Linked DNA regions of Homo sapiens: region 1 is linked to region 2. Evidence: fine-mapped expression QTL. A gene starts in region 2. The other region holds a variant in brackets. All regions are shown on one strand. Distances are from middle to middle.

Region 1 (8,000 bases), 250 kb after region 2:
ACCTTCTTGCTTCCGTTCTCAAACTGTAAACAAATGTCCTTTCCACCATGTTTTCCTAACTTTGTGCTTTTTGCTGGTGATTTTGCTACTTTAAATGGCCCCCAAGCTGTAGTGCTAAGTGCAAAAAGACTGTGATGTGCCTTCCAGAGAAAATACATGTATTATTAGGTAAGCTTCATTCAGGCATGAGTTACAATGCTGCTGGTTGTGAGTTCAATATTAATAAATTAATAATATATATTAAATAAGGTATCTTTAAACAGAAACTCACATAAAACAAGGTTATATGTTGGGTGGTTGATGAAAATGTTGTGACCAGGGGCTCACAGAAACCTGTGTTTTGATGTTCAGTGAGTATGGCAACTTTATAAAACAAAACTACCATGAACAACAAGAATCAACTATAACATCTATCAAGTAGCTGCTATGTGCTGGATGCCATGCTTATCCTTGAGCATCCAAGATTAGAATCTAGAATATATCAGCCAAAAAAAAACCACCTTATTTTTATTTATTTTTTTATTTTTTTTGAGATGGAGTCTCGCTCTGTCGCCCAGGCGGGAGTGCAGTGGCGCGATCTCGGCTCACTGCAAGCTCTGACTCCCGGGTTCATGCCATTCTCCTGCCTCAGCCTCCCGAGTAGCTGGGACTACAGGCGCCCGCCACCATGCCCAGCTAATTTTTTTTTGTATTTTTAGTAGAGATGGGGTTTCACTGTGTTAGCCAGGATGGTCTCGATCTCTTGACCCCGTGATCCACCTGCCTCGGCCTCCCAAAGTGCTGGGATTACAGGCGTGAGCCATCGTGCCTGGCACAAAAACTTACATAGATCGATTTTTTTAAAAAAGGTCAACAACCCAATTGAAAAATGGGAAAACGATATATAGGAAAGTCACAGAACAGGAACCTTAAATGGCCAATAACATGAAAAGATGCTCAAGGAAACTAGCAATTATGAAGCTATGATTTAAAACTGCAAAAAAATTCCATTTTATACTCATGAGCTTGTAAGAATGAATAAGTCTGACAATTTCACATGTAGTGAGAATGTGGACTCATGAGGGCTCTTACTCACTGCTGATGGGTGGTAAACTGGAATTATCACCTTGCAGAGCAATATGGAAATATCTCATTAAGGGTCAAGAAGCCCCATGACAGACCTTATGACTCAACAATCCTGCTCCAAGTATAGACCCTAAAGAAACTCTTGATAATATTCACAGGGACAAATGTAAAACATGTTCATCACAACATTATTTATAATAGCAAAAACCTAGAAGACAACTCAAATGCCCCAAACTAGCAGGAGGATAAATAAATCATGAAGTAGGCATACAGTAACAACTATAGAAAGGAAACAGCAGAGCTATTATAACAACATGTAGCAATAACAAAAAATCTTACAAACAACACTAAGAGAACAAAAGAAGTTGCAGAACAATACATACAGTATAAGTCCATTTATATAAAGTTTAAAAACATGCAAAACAGCCGGGCGTGGTGGCTCACACCGGTAATCCCAGCACTCTGGGAGGCCAAGGCGGGCGGATCACGAGGTCAGAAGTTCAAGACCAGCCTGGCCAGTATGGTGAAACCGCGTCTCTACTAAAAATACAAAAATTAGCCGGGTGTGGTGGCATGTGCCTGTAATCCCAGCTACTCTGGAGGCTGAGGCAGGAGAATTGCTTGAACCCGGGAAGCAGAGGTTGCAGTAAGCCAAGATTGTGCCATTGCACTCCAGCCTGGGTGACAGAGCAAGACCCTGTCTCAAAAAAAAAAAAAACAAAAAAAACCCCCCAAAAACATGCAAAACAATATTTTATGTGTGCATGTATGTGTGAAACAATACAGTGTGTGCATGTTACATTTAGTATTACATTTAGTATTTATTTCCATGCGTATTATTTTATGTGTGAAACATACATGCACACATAAAACAACACACATAGAAATGATAAATACTAAATGTAACATAGCGGTTACCTTTAGTGGGGTCAGAAAGAAAAAGTGAGTGGGGAAGGAACATTGGGAACTTCAGCTATATTTACAACAGCCAAGTTCTTAAATTTGATGGTAGGTACATGGCTATTTGTTGTATTATTCTTTATACGTTCGGTTATGTCTAAAATATTTAATTTTTATTAATTTTTTTAGAGACAGGGTCTTGCTCTGTCATCCAGGCTGGAGTGCAGTGGCATGATCATAGCTCACTGCACCCTCAAACTCCTGCACTCAAGTGATCCTCCTGCTTCAGCCTCCTGAGTAGCTAGGAGTACAGTTACGCACCACCTTGCCCGGCTAATTTTTTTTTTCTTTTAATCTTTTTTTGTAGAGATGAGATTTCACTATGTTGCCCAGACTGGTTTCAAACTCCTGATCTCAAGTAATTCTCCTGCCTCAGCCTCCCAAAGTACTGGGATTATAGGCATGAGCCACCATTGTCTGGCCTTGAAATATTCAGTAAAAAGTGGCCGGGCGCGGTGGCTCACGCCTGTAATCCCAGCACTTTGTGAGGCCGAGGCGGGCGGATCACGAGGTCAGGAGATTGAGACCATCCTGGATAACACGGTGAAACGCCATCTCTACTAAAAATACAAAAAAAAAAAAAAAAAAAAATGAGCCGGGCGTGATGGCGGGCGCCTGTAGTCCCAGCTACTCAGGAGGCTGAGGCAGGAGAATGGCATGAACCCGGGAGGCGGAGCTTGCAGTGAGCCTAGATCGCGCCACTGCGCTCCAGCCTGGGCGACAGAGTGAGACTCCGTCTCAAAAAAAAAAAAAAAATATATATATATATATATATATATATATATATATATATATATATATATATATATTTAGTAAAAAGCAAAATAATTTATATAGGAGCATAGTACAAACAACAAACATCATCACGCACATGCACATAAGGGACAGGTCAGGATTCTGGACTGGAGATGAGGATGTTGAATACATTCACACACAGGACAAGCGAAGCAAAAAAGTCTTGGATGCTGCTCACCTTGACAGTCCCTTCACCACAAAGACTTTATTGGAATGTTGCTTCTCCAGTTTGCTCATCACCTCGTAGAGATTGTGGTTCAGCTAGAGCCAATAAGAAAGAAGGGGATGCTAGCCAACTGGGAACCCGAGAGTGGCATATCCCTTCTCCCCTCCCCTTCAGACAGCTTCCCAAAATAAAACCTCCCCCTTTCAATTCTGATGTGAATTCCTCTTCATCTGTCTAGCATTAGAGTCCAGGGTCCTGTCCCGCCACCCCCTCTTCCCTGTCTCTCTGTGTTCTAAGTTCTGCCTCTTCCATCAGACTGGCAGCTGTCTCAAGGCAGGGTCCATAACTGATGTCTGATTTGAGGTTCTAGCTTCTCACAGGTGATCCAGGGAATGAAAACTCATTTTTAGGCCAGGCGCCTAAAAATGTAAAACTCATTTTACAGGCTCATGCCTGTAATCCCAGCACTTTGGGAGGCCGAGGTGGGCGGATCACGAGGTCAGGAGATCGAGACCATCCTGGCTAACATGGTGAAACCCTGTCTCTACTAAAAATACAAAAAAATTAGCTGGGCGTGGTGGTGGGCACCTGTAGTCCCAGCTACTCGGGAGGCTGAGGCAGGAGAATGGCGTGAACCTGGGAGGCAGAGCTTGCAGTGAGCAGAGATTGCGCCACTGCACTCCAGCCTAGGTGCCAGAGCAAGACTCCGTCTCAAAAAAAAAAAAACCAAAAAACCTCATTTTTAATATTAACTAGGCAAATCATACTTTAGCCAAATAAACTATGGAGAGTAGTATGTATAGCTGTTTGTGAATATAACTAATATAAATGTTGTAGTAGCAAAGAATCTTGGAATCCCAGGACTAGAAAAGACTTCATAAATTATGTTATATGGCTGCCTGTCACTGACAGGATTAGTCTTATTTGAGACCAACCACCTGAGAAACTGACTTGTCCTTAAACACTGCCCTCTCCAGTCCCCAGCAACAATAGATAGATATTTCACAATGGGGTTCCCCATTTTAATTTTTCCTTCTATAGGCCTAACCTCCTTTATTCATGCTAAAGCTCAAATTTGGACACACTTACTCAGTTGTTAAGGGAGATGAAGAGGGCCCTCGGATAGTGTATATATGTGTTTCAATACAGTTAAGTACACAATCAAGTGCTCTTATTTCATCATGAGAGAAAAGCCAAAATCTGTGGTGCCAATACGGATATTTAAAGAAATCATGTAAGTCAAGGCTACCTTCATATTTACTAGAAAACACACCTAGGAGCCTCAATTGGCCAGACACCTCTCACCTTGCTCATTTCCCTGTAGAAGACATCCCTCAAGTTGGAAATGTTTTGGAAGATGGTCACATAGCAGCCAATACGACTATTAGGAAGCAAAACCACAAACACATACGAGTAAGGCATGGGAAAGGAGTTCTTTGTTTGAAATACAAAGTAGGACTTAAGCCAAAACCAGCCACCAAGGCTCCTAAATGAAAGCCATCCCGCTGGGCACAGTGGCTCACGCCTGTAATCCCAGCACTTTGGGAGGCCAAGGTGGGCGTATCATGAAGTCAGGAGATC[A/G]AGACCATCCTGGCTAACATGGTAAAACCCGTCTCTACTAAAAAAAAAAAAAATTAGCCGGGCGTGGTGGCATGAGCCTGTAGTCCCAGCTACTCAGGAGGCTGAGGCAAAAGAGTCGCTTGAACCTGGTAGGCAGAGGTTGCAGTGAGCCGAGATCGTGCCACTGCACTCCAGCCTGGGCGACAGAGCGAGACTCTATTTTAAAAAATAAAAAAAGAAAGCCATCCCACATCCCACACTCAGGATGTTCTGGGATCTGGATTCGTCAGAGCTGGGCCAGGAACACACGTGATTCTTAGGAGCAGGAAGGCCAGGGGAGACAATATCAGCTCAGGCTGACACCAAAGTTTAACAGTTTCATGGAGTTATCTGATTTGGGCTCTTGAAGGGCTGAGGAGACATAAAAGGGCTTTGAATAATTTTTTAAAGGGCTATATAAATATAAGGCTATCTAATTATAACTATTACAGTAAGTAATTATTCTTTCCCTTTATGCAATACAGGATGACTTCTGCGCCTGTATGTACATTAATGGAATTCTCCTGTAAGTGAATCAAGGAGGTATACTTTTAAAGAAACTGTATTAAATTTCATTTCTAGGCCAGGCACGGTGGCTCATGCCTGTAATCCCAGCACTTTGGGAGGCTGGGGCAGGTAGATCACCTGAGGTCAGGAGTTTGAGACCAGCCTGTCCAACAGGGTGAAACCTGTCAAAAAATACAAAAATGGCCAGGCACGGTGGCTCACGCGTGTAATCCCAGCACTTTGGGAGGCTGAGGTAGGCGGATCACAAGGTCAGGAGATTGAGACCATCCTGGCCAACATGGTGAAACCCCATCTCTACTAAAATACAAAAACTTAGCTGGACTTAGTGGCACGCGCCTGTAGTCCCAGCTACTTGGGAGGCTGAGGCAGGAGAATCGCTTGAATCCGGGAGGTGGAGGTTGCAGCGAGCCGAGATTGTGCCACTGCACTCCAGCCTGGCAACAGAGTGAGACTCTGTCTCAAAACAAAACAAACAAACAAACAAAAACAAAAATTAGTCAGGTGTGGTGGCACGTGCCTGTAGTCCCAGCTACTCAGGAAGCTGAGGTGGGAGAATTGCTTGAACCCGGGAGGCATAGGTTACAGTGAGCCACACTCCAGCCTGGGTGACAGAATGAGACCCTGTCTCAAAATAAATAAATTAATTAATTAATAAAATAAAATAAAAAATAAAATTTCAATTTCATTTTAATTAGGAGTCACATAATGTTTTAGAATACATGTGTTCATTAAAAAGGCTCCATCCTATGTACACTAATAAGTGACAATATAAAATATTCTGACCATAATTCTATTAATGCATCTCTTGTACAATAAAAAGAAAAAAGGATACAAATGGAGTTTCTGCTTAGATTTCTCTTTAAATGTGGAAAATCTGGCTGGGCATGGTGGCTCACGCCTGTAATCCCAGAACTTTGGGAGGCCAAGGCAGGGGGATCACTTGAAGCCAGGAGTTCGAGACCAGCCTGGGCAACATGGTGAAACCCCATCTCTACTAAAAATACAAAAAAAAATTAGCCAGGCATGGTGGCACATGCCTGTAATCCCAGGTACTCGGGTGGCTGAAGCACAACAATCACTTGAACTAGGGAGGTGGAGGTTGCAGTGAGCTGAGATTGAGTGCTACTGCACTCTAGCCTGGGTGACAGAGTGAGACCCTGTCTCGAAAAAAAAAAAAAGGGGGCGGGGCAGTGTGGGAATTTAAATCTAAAACACTTTTATCTACTTACTGTCAAGGCACACAAGGTGCCTTGTGTGAAGCAAAGGCACCTTTTCTGAATTTCAGTCATTACCTATTATAAAGAATAGGCAGCTCCTCTAGTAGTTCTTGGTTCAGATCTTCAAACACAGTCTGGGCTTTGTTGAACTCTTCCTCTGCCTAGGTGGTAAAAGAGACAAGACAATCTCCCTCAATTCTGAACCCAGTACTACAGCATGCCTCCTTCATCCTCTGCATTTTTTTAGGCACTAGGCTTTTTAGGAGCCATCCCTCTTCTTCCCCTGACCATGCCCTCCCCAGCCTCAAGACTCTGACTATCCTTACAGCATCAGTGTCAGAAGAAACAGATTTCCTTTAGGACACTGGATGCTGAATTTATAATTTCCTATACCCATGTTGGCCCAGCCACCTGCTACCACCATGGGGAGAAGGAGAACAGGAAGGGTTTACCAGTTTTTGTTGTTGTTTTTGTTTTACCTTGGCAGTCTTGGCCTCATCTTTCTTCTTGGCATTCTGCACTGCCTCCAGGTGGTGTCGGGCACTGTCATAGTCCACGAGTTTCCGACCCCGCTTGGCAATTCTCTCCTGACCCAGGGTAATGAGAAAGGGTGTGGATACTCACTTTTTAGTGGCCAGGATGTAGGTAACAGAATACCAAACAGAGAGCAAGATTCTTGCATCCTACTATCAAATTTCACTTTCGTTGTTTTTTGCTTTTGTTTTTTTTGAGACAGGGTCTTGCTCTGTTGCCCAGGCTGGAGTGCAGTTGTGCGATCTCAGCTCACTGTAACCTCTGCCTCCCAGATTCAAGCAATTTTTGTGCTTCGGCCTCCCAGGTAGCTGGAATTATAGGCATGTGCACCAAGCCCGGCTAATTTTTGCATTTTTAGTAGAGATGGGGTTTTGCCATCTTAGCCAGGCTGGTCTCGAACTCCTGGGCTCATGTGATATGCCCACCTCGGCCTCCCAAAGTGCTGGGATTACAGGCAGGAGCAACCGCACCTGGCCCAAATTTCACTTTCTAATAGGGTTTTGCGCCCATGGGGTCTCCCTCAGTATCTGGGAAGAATGGGGGAGTCTCAGAGGGAGATAGAGTCCTACAGAGCATGTGGAAATCTGTATTAATTATATATATGTAATAGATATATAATTAAATACATATATATATTTCCACCTCCACCTCCCGCTGTATTAAATTTTAATATTTCCTATGAACCCATTATAAACTGGTTCAGCCTCCAGGAGAAATGGCCTTGAGAATCACATGAAAGTGAAAGTCTGGATTTTTGGGAATTAGTCCCAAATCTGCCATTCATAGCCTGTGGCCAGTGGCAAGGCACATCTCTTTTGGAGCCTCAGTAGCCCCATCTCCCCTTATACAACTGTTATTTGAAAGAGTGAATGCTGAATACAAAGTGCTTTGAAAGCTCTAAAACACAATAAAAGCTATAAATTACTATGACCACTGAGAGAAAGTCTACTCAGCCTTATCCAAACTATAAATTATACCAGTGAGAAGCAAACTATGTCTTTGAACCGTTTCATTCTCTCAGTCACAGAATTTGAAAAGATCTTAGCAATTATCTGGTCCAATTTCCCATACAATACCATGAGGCTTCTCTATAACATCCAAGATAAGAAGTAGTTTGACTTCTGTTTGCACAAAGA
Region 2 (9,699 bases):
GCTCAGCCTCTGTAGTTTTTATTTTATTTTTGAGATGAAGTCTCACTCTGTCACCCAGGCTGGAGTACAGTGGCATGATCTCAGCTCACTGCAACCTCCACCTCCCGGGTTCAAGTGATTCTCCTGCTTCAGCCTCCAGAGTAGCTGGGATTACAGGCGTGTGCCACCACGCCCAGCTAATTTTTGTATTTTTGGTAGAGACGTGGTTTCACTATCTTGCCCAGGCTGGTCTCGAACTCCTGACCTCAAGTGATCATCCTCCTCAGCCTCCCAAAGTGCTGGGATTACAAATATGAGCCACTGCGCTTGGCCATATTCATTTAATAAATATTTAATAAGCCCCCCTTGTGTGCCAGGGACTGGAATACAGTGAGCTTAGACTCCTGTGGGGAAGATAGCCATGAAATGTATAATGACACAGCTAATTAATTATGATGTTAAGTACTATGAAAAATAAGTATAGCTAGCTACAAAGTGAGTAACAGGAACCTCAGTCTGTGGGGTTAAGAGTTTCCTGTAACAGAGCTGTTTATATACAGTGCAGCACTAACTCATATGCCCAGCCTGCCTGGGTTCAAATTCTGACTCAATCTTGAGCAGATTATTGAACCTCATTTTCCTCATGTATAAAGTGGAGCTAGGTCTGGCTTAGTGACTCACACCTATGTGAACCCAAAATATCTGAGACAGGTCTCAATCAATTTAGAAAGTTTATTTTGCCAAGGTCAAGGACATGACACAGCCTTAGGAGGTCCTGATGACACGTGCCCAAGGTGGTTGTGGCACAGCTTGGTTTTTCTTTTTTTTTTTTTTTTTGAGACAGAGTTTCGCTCTTGTTGCTCAGGCTGGAGGCAATGGCGTGATCTCGGCTCACCGCAACCTCTGCCTCCCGGGTTCAAGCAATTTTCCTCTCTCAGCCTCCTGAATAGCTGGGATTACAGGTGTATGTCACCATGCCCAGCTAATTTTTGTTTTTTTTTTTCTTTTTGAGATGGAGTTCCGTTCTTGTTGCCCAGGCTGGAGTGCAGTGGCGCAATCTCAGCTCACCACAACCTCCGCCTCCCGGGTTCAAGCGATTCTTCTCCCTTGGCCTCCTGAGTAGTTGGGATTACTGGTATACGCCACCAAGTCTGGCTAATTTTGTATTTTTAGTAGAGACGGGGTTTCTCCATGTTGGTCAGGCTGGTCTTGAACTCCCGACCTCAGGTGATCCACCTGCCTTGGCCTCCCAAAGTGCTGGGATTACAGGCATGGACCACTGCGCCAAGCCTAAGTTTTATATTTTTAGTAGAGACGGGGTTTCATCATATTGGTCAGGCTAGTCTTGAACTCCTGACCTCAGGTGATTTGCCTGCCTCAGCTTCCCAAAGTGCTGGGATTACAGGTGTGAGTCACTGTGCCCAGCCCACAGCCTTTTGTTTGTTTGTTTTTTGAGACACAGTCTCACTCTGTTGCCCAGGCTGGAGTGCAATGGTGTGATCTCAGCTCACTGCAACCTCCGCCTCCCAAGTTAAAGTGATTCTCCTGCCTCAGCCTCCTGAGTAGCTGCAGCTGGGATTATAGGCACGCACCACCATGCCCGGCTAATTTTTGTATTTTTAGAAGAGATGGGGTTTCACCATGTTGGCCAGGATGGTCTTGATCTCCTGACCTCGTGATTCGCCCGCCTCGGCCTCCCAAAGTGCTGGGATTACAGGCGTGAGCCACCGCGCCCAGTCGGAAACCTGAAAGGTTTTATAAAGAGAAATGACAAGCTTAGATTTGCAATTTTAAAAGCTCTCTCTGGTTACATACAACATGGAGAACTGGTTGGAGGGAGGACAAAACATATGGCAGGGAAACCAGTAAAGAGGCTGCTGTAGAAGTGGGGACCAGAGGCTTGCAGCTTAGCCTAGGGTGGTGGCAGAGAAGATAGAAGGAAGCTGGCTGATTGAAGAACAGCTAGAAGATAGAACCAACAAGATGCATGTGTGTGTGTGTGTGTGTGTGCGTGTGCACGCGCGTGTGTGTGTGTGTGTGTGTGTGTGTGTGTGTGTGTAGCGGGGGAAAGGGGGAAGAGGCCTAAACACTAAATAAATATCTCAGGAAAGGGCTGGGTGCAGTGGCTCAAGTCTGTAATCCCAGCACTTTGGGAGATCAAGGCAGGGGAATTGCTTGAGTCTAGGAGTTCAAGATCAGCCTGGCTAACGTGGCAAATCTCTATCTCTACTAAAAACACAAAAATTAGCTGGGCGTGGCGGCATGCGCCTGTAATCCCAGCTACTTGGGAGGCTGAGGTGAGAGGACCACTTGAGCCCAGGAGATCAAGGCTGCAGTGAGCCATGATGGGGCCACTGCACTCTAGCCTGGGCGACACAGCGAGACCCTATGAAAGAAAGAAAGAGAGAAAGAGAAAGAAAGAGAGGAAGGAAAGAAAGAAAAGGAAGGAAAGGAAGGAAGAGAAAGAAAGAAAAGTCTGAGGAATGACCTGTGTTCCTGCCACATTCTTTCATTGCATGAAATGCCTTCCCCTCTACTCCATCCTTTCAGACACAGTTCCTTCCTATTTTCTCCACAAAATTCTGATTTTGTCTCCTTTCCAAGAGAGTTCCAGAATTTTAGAGCTGAACATTCTTGAGTAGTTGACATGACTCAGAAGCTACCTGAAGATGGCTGGGCACGTTGGCTCACGCCTGTAATCCCAGCACTTTGCGAAGCTGAGGTGGGCAGATCACCTGAGTTCAGGAGTTCGAGACTAGCCTGGCCAACATGGTGAAACCGCGTCTCTACTAAGAATACAAAAATTGGACTGGGTGTGATGGCTCACACCTCTAATCCCAGCACTTTGGGAGGCCGAGGTGGGAGGATCACGAGGTCAGGAGATCAAGACCATCCTGGCTAACATGGTGAAACCCCGTTTCTACTGAAAATACAAAAAATTAGCCAGGTGTGGTGGTGGGCACCTGCAGTCCCAGCTACTCGGGAGGCTGATGCAGGAGAATGGTGTGAATCCGGGAGGCGGAAGTTGCAGTGAGCCGAGATTGCGCCACTGCACTCCAGCCTGGGCAACAGAGCGAGACTCCGTGTCAAAAAAAAAAAAAAAGAATACAAAAGTTGTCTGGGCATGGTGGCGGGCGCCTGTAAACCCAGCTACTTGGGAGGCTGAGGCAGGAGAATCACTTGAATCCGGGAGATGAAGGTTGCAGTGAGCTGAAATTGCGCCACTGCACTCCAGCCTGGGTGACAGAGTGAGACTCTGTCTCCAAAAAAAAAAAAAACAAAAAAAAAAACTACCTGAATATGAAGACCATGTCTTAGTCAACTTTTTTTTTTTTTTTTTTTTTTTTGAGACAGTCTCACTCTGTTGCCCAGGCTGGAGTGCAGTGGTGCGATCTTGGCTCACCTCAACCTCCGCCTCCTGGGTTAAAGCGATTCTCCTGCCTCAGCCTCCCGAGTAGCTGGGATTACAGGCGCCCACCACCACATCCGGCTAATTTTTGTATTCTTAGTAGAGATGAGGTTTCACCATGTTGTCCAGGCTGGTCTCGAACTCCTGACCTCGGGTAATCAGCCCGCTTCGGCCTCCCAAAGTGCTGGGATTACAGGCATGAGCCACGGCGCCCAGCCGTCTTAGTCAACTTTCTATCCCGTCCACCCCATCTACCCAACACTTGTGAAGATCCAGGGCCATCTTTTAAAACTTTTCCTCTGACTGCACGAGTGGTACAGTCATTAATAACCTGTGCTAATATAAAGCTCTGTGACCCATAAAGCATTATACAGATGTGGGAGCTTTCACAGCTGTATTCTCTTTGGATCCTCAAAGATTTCTTATAAAGTAGGTACTATTATAAGGGAAATAAACTCAGAGCTAAAGTGACATATCCAAGGTAACATTCACTAAAACAAACGTCAATGCCAAGATTGAACCTATATCCAGGGAACCCACATGGGATGCTCTACCACCTTCCATGAAGAATAAATATTCATATATATCCAAGAGGACTGTTAATTCTTGGAGGCAGTTAAGTACCACTTCTGGGAATCCTTCTTAGTTTCAAGTATGAATCTATTCAAACATGTTTACTGAACACCTACTATGTGCTAAGTAAGGCACCTAGTGTTGGAGGTGCAGCAATGAACAAGGCAGAGAAGATGCTTACCCTCATTCTAGTTCAGGGAGCTGTCAAACAAGGACACAAATACATAAACACTGTAAGTGACAGATGCTACAAAGAAAATACAAGGCCGGGTGCAGTGGCTCACGCCTGTAATCCCAGCACTTTGGGAGGCCAAGGCTGGCGGATCACTTGAGGCCAGGAGTTGAAGACCAGCCTGACCAACATAGTGAGATCCCGTCTCTACTAAAAATACAAAAATTAGCCGGGCGTGGTGGCGGACGCCTGTAATCCCAGATACTCGGGAGGCTGAGGCAGGAGAATCGCTTGAACCCGGGAGGCGGAGGCTGCAGTGAGCCAAGATCGCGCCACTGCACTCCAGCCGGGGCGACAGAGCAAAACTGTCACAAAAACAAAACAACAAAACAAAACAAAACAGAGTAACATGAGAATAAGTGTGAAGTGTGTCCTTTTCGCCGGCACTGCTTCAGATAGGGTGGTCACAGAAATCCTCTCAGAATAGTAACATTTAAGTTGAGACAGAGCTTGGTCTTCGGTAGGTGCTTAACGAAAACCATTTTCCCACAAACTTAGTTCTGGAAACGACAAAGAGAGGAAAAAGTGTACTCAGTCCGCACAGGGGCCGCTCCCAGGCCTCCAACCTTCGCCGCCAGACTGACTGGAAAGTGGACAGTTCCCGGCCTATCCACGCCGGCACCATTAGAGGGCGCCGCGGGTCCTCCTAGCCCCAGGCACTGGCAAACTGACATCTGCTACCTAACAGTCGAGGCTCCGACGCCCCGAGTCCAGGCAGAGGGCAAGGGCGGCGCTGGGAAGCCCTGAGGCCCTAAGGAATCGCGGAGGGTCACTGGGCGCCTCAAGGACAGGGTGCCCTCCGCGTCGCAAACCCACACCAGTGGCATAAGAACTCGCTCCCTCTGGGACACCCTGTTTCCGGCGCCTTTAAACCTGGAAGTACTGCTGTGTCCAATCCTGGCCCTCCTTCCGCACTTAGTCTTTGAGTCCTTCCCTCTCCTGGCTTGTGCTGGAGCCAAGCAGGCTATGGCTACCAATCAGCGCTCAGAAAAGACGCATGCGTCTTCGAACGAACGCGACGTACGGTTAACTTTGACCCAAAGACAACCTCTTCTCTCCCGCTTCTCTCGCTGTGAAGATGGCGCTCTCCAGGGTGTGCTGGGCTCGGTCGGCTGTGTGGGGCTCGGCAGTCACCCCTGGACATTTTGTCACCCGGAGGCTGCAACTTGGTCGCTCTGGCCTGGCTTGGGGGGCCCCTCGGTGAGGGACCTGTAGCGAGAAAAGCATTTTTGACGTCCAGGCTCTTTCAGTGTCTCAACCTTGCTTGCATTCTGTCTCTTAATTCTCAGAGTTCCACGCCTTGGCCCTGGAATTTTTATTCTTCTGTTCAGGATTCAAACTCCGATCCCCACTAGTGACCCGGCTTCCTGACCCTCTGTACTCTCAGTGCCCCATATTGTCTGGTTTCCCCGCGTGTCCTGAGCTCATCTTTCAGCCTCACTTTTTCGGCTCAGGTTTTACCGCTGCTATCTCGATTCCACCTCTTTCTGACTTAGCCTGCAGTTCAAATTGTCCCACAGGCATTGCGCTCTCTCCAGAGGCATACCCTGAGTTACTTTCCTGCCTGGCCTTTGCCTGATTTGTGTTTCACAGTCTGATTGCCTATCTCTTCTTGACCCCAAGACCTTCCTTGGATTTCAGAAGTGTCAAGCCTTGGGATACAATCTCCGAGACTCCTGCTTTACATTAGGGACTCAAGGCGTGAGGGAGCTTCTAGGACTGATTCCCAGATAGTCTCTTTGATCTTCCTTGTAGGTCTTCAAAGCTTCACCTTTCTCCAAAGGCAGATGTGAAGAACTTGATGTCTTATGTGGTAACCAAGACAAAAGCGATTAATGGGAAATACCATCGTTTCTTGGGTCGTCATTTCCCCCGCTTCTATGTCCTGTACACAATCTTCATGAAAGGTAAAAACGAAACTACAATAGAAATTCCGGAATCAGCTCTTGGGCAGGGTCAAAGAGTTAGCATAAATAAGATCATTTGCAGGTTCTGCTATGGGGATGTGAGCCGAGATATCTTATATTTCATAAATGCCTGCGCCTTAAACTAATTCCTATAAATTAGCACTTCTTGAGAATGTTTCTAGAAAGATGTTATGAGAAACAACTTATGACAGCAACATGAGGGAGGGAGAATATAGGTATGTTCTCGTACTTTCTTAACCACACACCTGGCTATAGTAGAAATTTTTTGCCTTGCACACGGCAGGGATCTGTGGCTGTATAGACCTGCCCTGTGATGTATCAGTTGACTTACCCATAGGAAAATGAGGTCTAACCCTTGTTATGAATCTATATTAGGTAGTATGTTGTAGTGGCAATAGCCCTACATAATACTTGGTTTCTAAATGTTTTGTTTCAAATCAGAGATCCTTAGTTACTAGGAGAAGATATGTATCGTGTCAAGTGTCTACTCTGGAGCCAGATTGCCTGATTCAAATCCCAGTTCGTCACTGTGCGATTGGACTAATTAATTAACCCCTCTTTCCTTGGTTTTCTTATGTGTAAAATGGGAGTAATGGAACCTACCTATTTATCACATGATTGTGAAGACTTTAAAAATTGATACATGTAAAGTACCTAGAACAGGTCCTGATCCCTAGTAAGTGCCAAGTAAATGTTAACTTATTTTCATCTAAATGTTACCTAACAGTATTATAAGTTGGTGCAAAAGTAATTGCGGCTTTTGGCTTTCAGTGGCAAAAACCACAATTGCTTTTGCACCAAATCTATAATATGCTCTATGCTTTTATCATAACACTATAATAAACTACATTGTCAAATCTGAACATTATCATAATTATTACTAGCTTCATGGACTTGAAAAATTACTTATCCTTAATTTGTAGAGATAAAATTGGCTGCTTTTTCTGTTTTCATGTAGATAAATAGGATCAAATGAGAGAAAGGGATGAAAGCATTTGTGTTTGTTTTTAAACTTTTTATTATGAATTTTTTTTTTTTTTGAGTCTCACCGTGTCGCCCAGGCTGGAGTGCAATGGCATGATCTCGGTTCACTGCAACCTCTGCTTCCCGGATTCAAGCAATTCTCCTGCCTTAGCCTCCCAAGTAGCTGGGAATACAGGCGCCTGCCACCACACCAGGCTAATTTTTTTATTTTTAGTAGAGGTGGGGTTTCACCATATTGGCCAGGCTGGTCTCTAACTCCTGACCTCGTGATCCGCCTGCCTCGGCTTCCCAAAGTGCTGGGATTACAGGCTTGAGCCACCGCGCCCGGCCAACTATTATGGAAATTTTTAAACACACACAGATGTAGAGAGAGTAGTGTAACAAACTTCCATGTATTAACCTCACTTCATTATCATAACTCATGGCTGCCAATCCTATTTATATACTTGCCTTATGTATTATTTTGAAGACAATCGAGACATCATATAATGACATGTAAATCATTGATAAATATGAAAGCATTAAAGAAATAGATGCAAGAAGCCGGGCGCGGTGGCTCATGCCTGTAACCCCAGCACTTTGGGAGGCCGGGGCGGGCGGATCATCTGAGGTCGGGCGTTTGAGACCAGCCTGACCAACATAGAGAAGCACCGTCTCTACTAAAAATACAAAATCAGCCAGGTATAGTGGCACATGCCTGTAATCCCAGCTACTAGGGAGGCTGAGGCAGGAGAATCTCTTGAACCTGGGAGACGGAGGTTGTGGTGAGCCAAGATCGCACCATTGCACTCCAGCCTGGGCAACAACAGTGAAACTCCCATCTCAAAAAAAAAAAGAAAAGAAAAAAATTAGATGCAAGAATTTTCATAAAATGAAAATTTAAAATGTAATCATAAAAATATATTGAACTAAACTACTTTAAAAAGTGTTCCAGGCTGGGCACGGTGGCTCACGCCTGTAATCCTAGCACTTTGGGAGGCCAAGGCGGGCGGATCATGAGGTCAGGAGTTTGAGACCAGCCTGGCCAACATGGTGAAACCCAGTCTCTATTAAAAATACAAAAATTAGCCAGGTGTGGTGATGGGCACCTATAATCCCAGCTACTCGGAAGGCTGAGGCAGGAGAATTGCTTGAACTCAGGAGGTGGACGTTGCAGTGAGCCGAGATTGCGCCACTGCACTCCAGCCTGGGCGACAGAGCAAAACTCCATCTCAAAAACAAAAATAAGTGTTCCAGGCCGGGCGCAGTGACTCATGCCTGTAATCCCAGCACTTTGGGAGGCCGAGGCAGGTGGATTGCTTGAGGTCAGGAGTTAAAGACGAGCCTGTCCACATGGTGAAACCCCATCTCTACTAAAAATGCAAAAATTAGCCAGGCATGGTGGCACACGCCTGTAATCCTAGCTACTTGGGATTCTGAGGTGGGAGAATTATATAAACCTGGGAGGTGGAGGTTGCAGTCAGCCGAAATCGCACCACTGCACTCCAGCCTGGGCAACAAAGTGAGATTCCATCTCAAAAAAAAGAAAAAAAAAGTTCCAGAAAGGAGATTAAATTAATATCTGGCTGGGGAATACATAGGGTTAATTTAGCAAGACTTTCTGAAGTTAGGGAGCTTGATTTTTAAAAAGGAGTGACCAGTGAAACAGAAGAGGGAGACCATTCCATAGCAGATTACAGAAGCCAAATGTAGCTAGAAGAGAGGCGATGTGCTAGGGGAAAAAATGTTGAGAAAAGAGATTCGAGTTGACCTCAGGAGTTTCAAGTTACCTAGTTTAAAGCTTTGAGTATCGTTGGGGAGGGGTGAGAGTGTTTGCATGTGATTGAACATGGAGTAGGAAGCTGTGGTTAAGATTTAAACTGGGATAACATCACACTCTGTCCTCTACTTTAATGAGGCAGGATTGCAGATGTTATGGGCTGATGCCAAAAAGGCTAGAAGAATAAAGACAAATATGTGGAAGCACAATATAAAGTTTCATCAACTTCCATACCGGGAGATGGAGCATTTGAGACAGGTATGGGCCAGGGGCAGATATCCAGAAGTTCATGGTGAGGTAATTACATTTAATCAAGATCTCAAGGTTTTTTCTTTCATTTGTTGTTCACCATTGATCAAGCTTTTGCCCTTTGCCGTGAGAACAAAATATTGAACTGAATGAGGCATCAGATTATTTGTAAGAATTGGGTTCATCCAGAGTTGTAGCCCTCCATAGCAAGAGCTCCATAGAATTTCTGGCACACTTTCTGAATGAAAGTTGTAAATACTAAAATCTAATTAGTTTCTGAACATAACAAAAGTCTGCAAGGGGGCTGGGCGCGGTGGCTCACGCCTGTAATCCCAGCACTTTGGGAAGCCGAGGCAGGCAGATCACGAAGTCAGGAATTCGAGACCAGCCTGGCCCACAAGGTCAAACCCCATCTCTACTGAAAATACAAAAATTAGCTGAGTGTGGTGGCGGGCGCCTGTAATCCCAGCTACTCGGGAGGCTGAGGCAGGAGAATCGTTTGAACCCGGGAGGCAGAGGTTGCAGTGAGCCAAAATCATGCCATTGCACTCCAGCCTGGGTGACAGGGCAAGACTCCATCTCAAAA

Evidence for each region. PIP is the estimated chance that this variant, and not a neighbour inherited with it, causes the effect.
Region 1: its variant is fine-mapped to the expression of LETMD1 in whole blood (TOPMed, PIP 0.95).

Annotation. Positions count from the first base shown.
Region 1 is chr12:51,292,798-51,300,797 of GRCh38, forward strand. It overlaps BIN2 (bridging integrator 2), which reads right to left. Exons shown (of 13, transcript NM_016293.4): 6 at 6,810-6,917; 7 at 6,406-6,491; 8 at 4,292-4,367; 9 at 2,999-3,081. Among named protein-coding and RNA genes, the nearest start is that of SMAGP, 26 kb to the left of the region's middle. The variant A/G (reference allele first, on the strand shown) is at 4,568.
Region 2 is chr12:51,043,086-51,052,784 of GRCh38, forward strand. LETMD1 (LETM1 domain containing 1) reads left to right here and starts at 5,242. Exons shown (of 9, transcript NM_015416.5): 1 at 5,242-5,393; 2 at 5,949-6,100; 3 at 9,007-9,122. The coding sequence starts at 5,272. RefSeq lists enhancers at 4,517-4,636, 4,687-4,766, 4,857-5,126, 4,948-5,486, 5,237-5,286 and 1 more.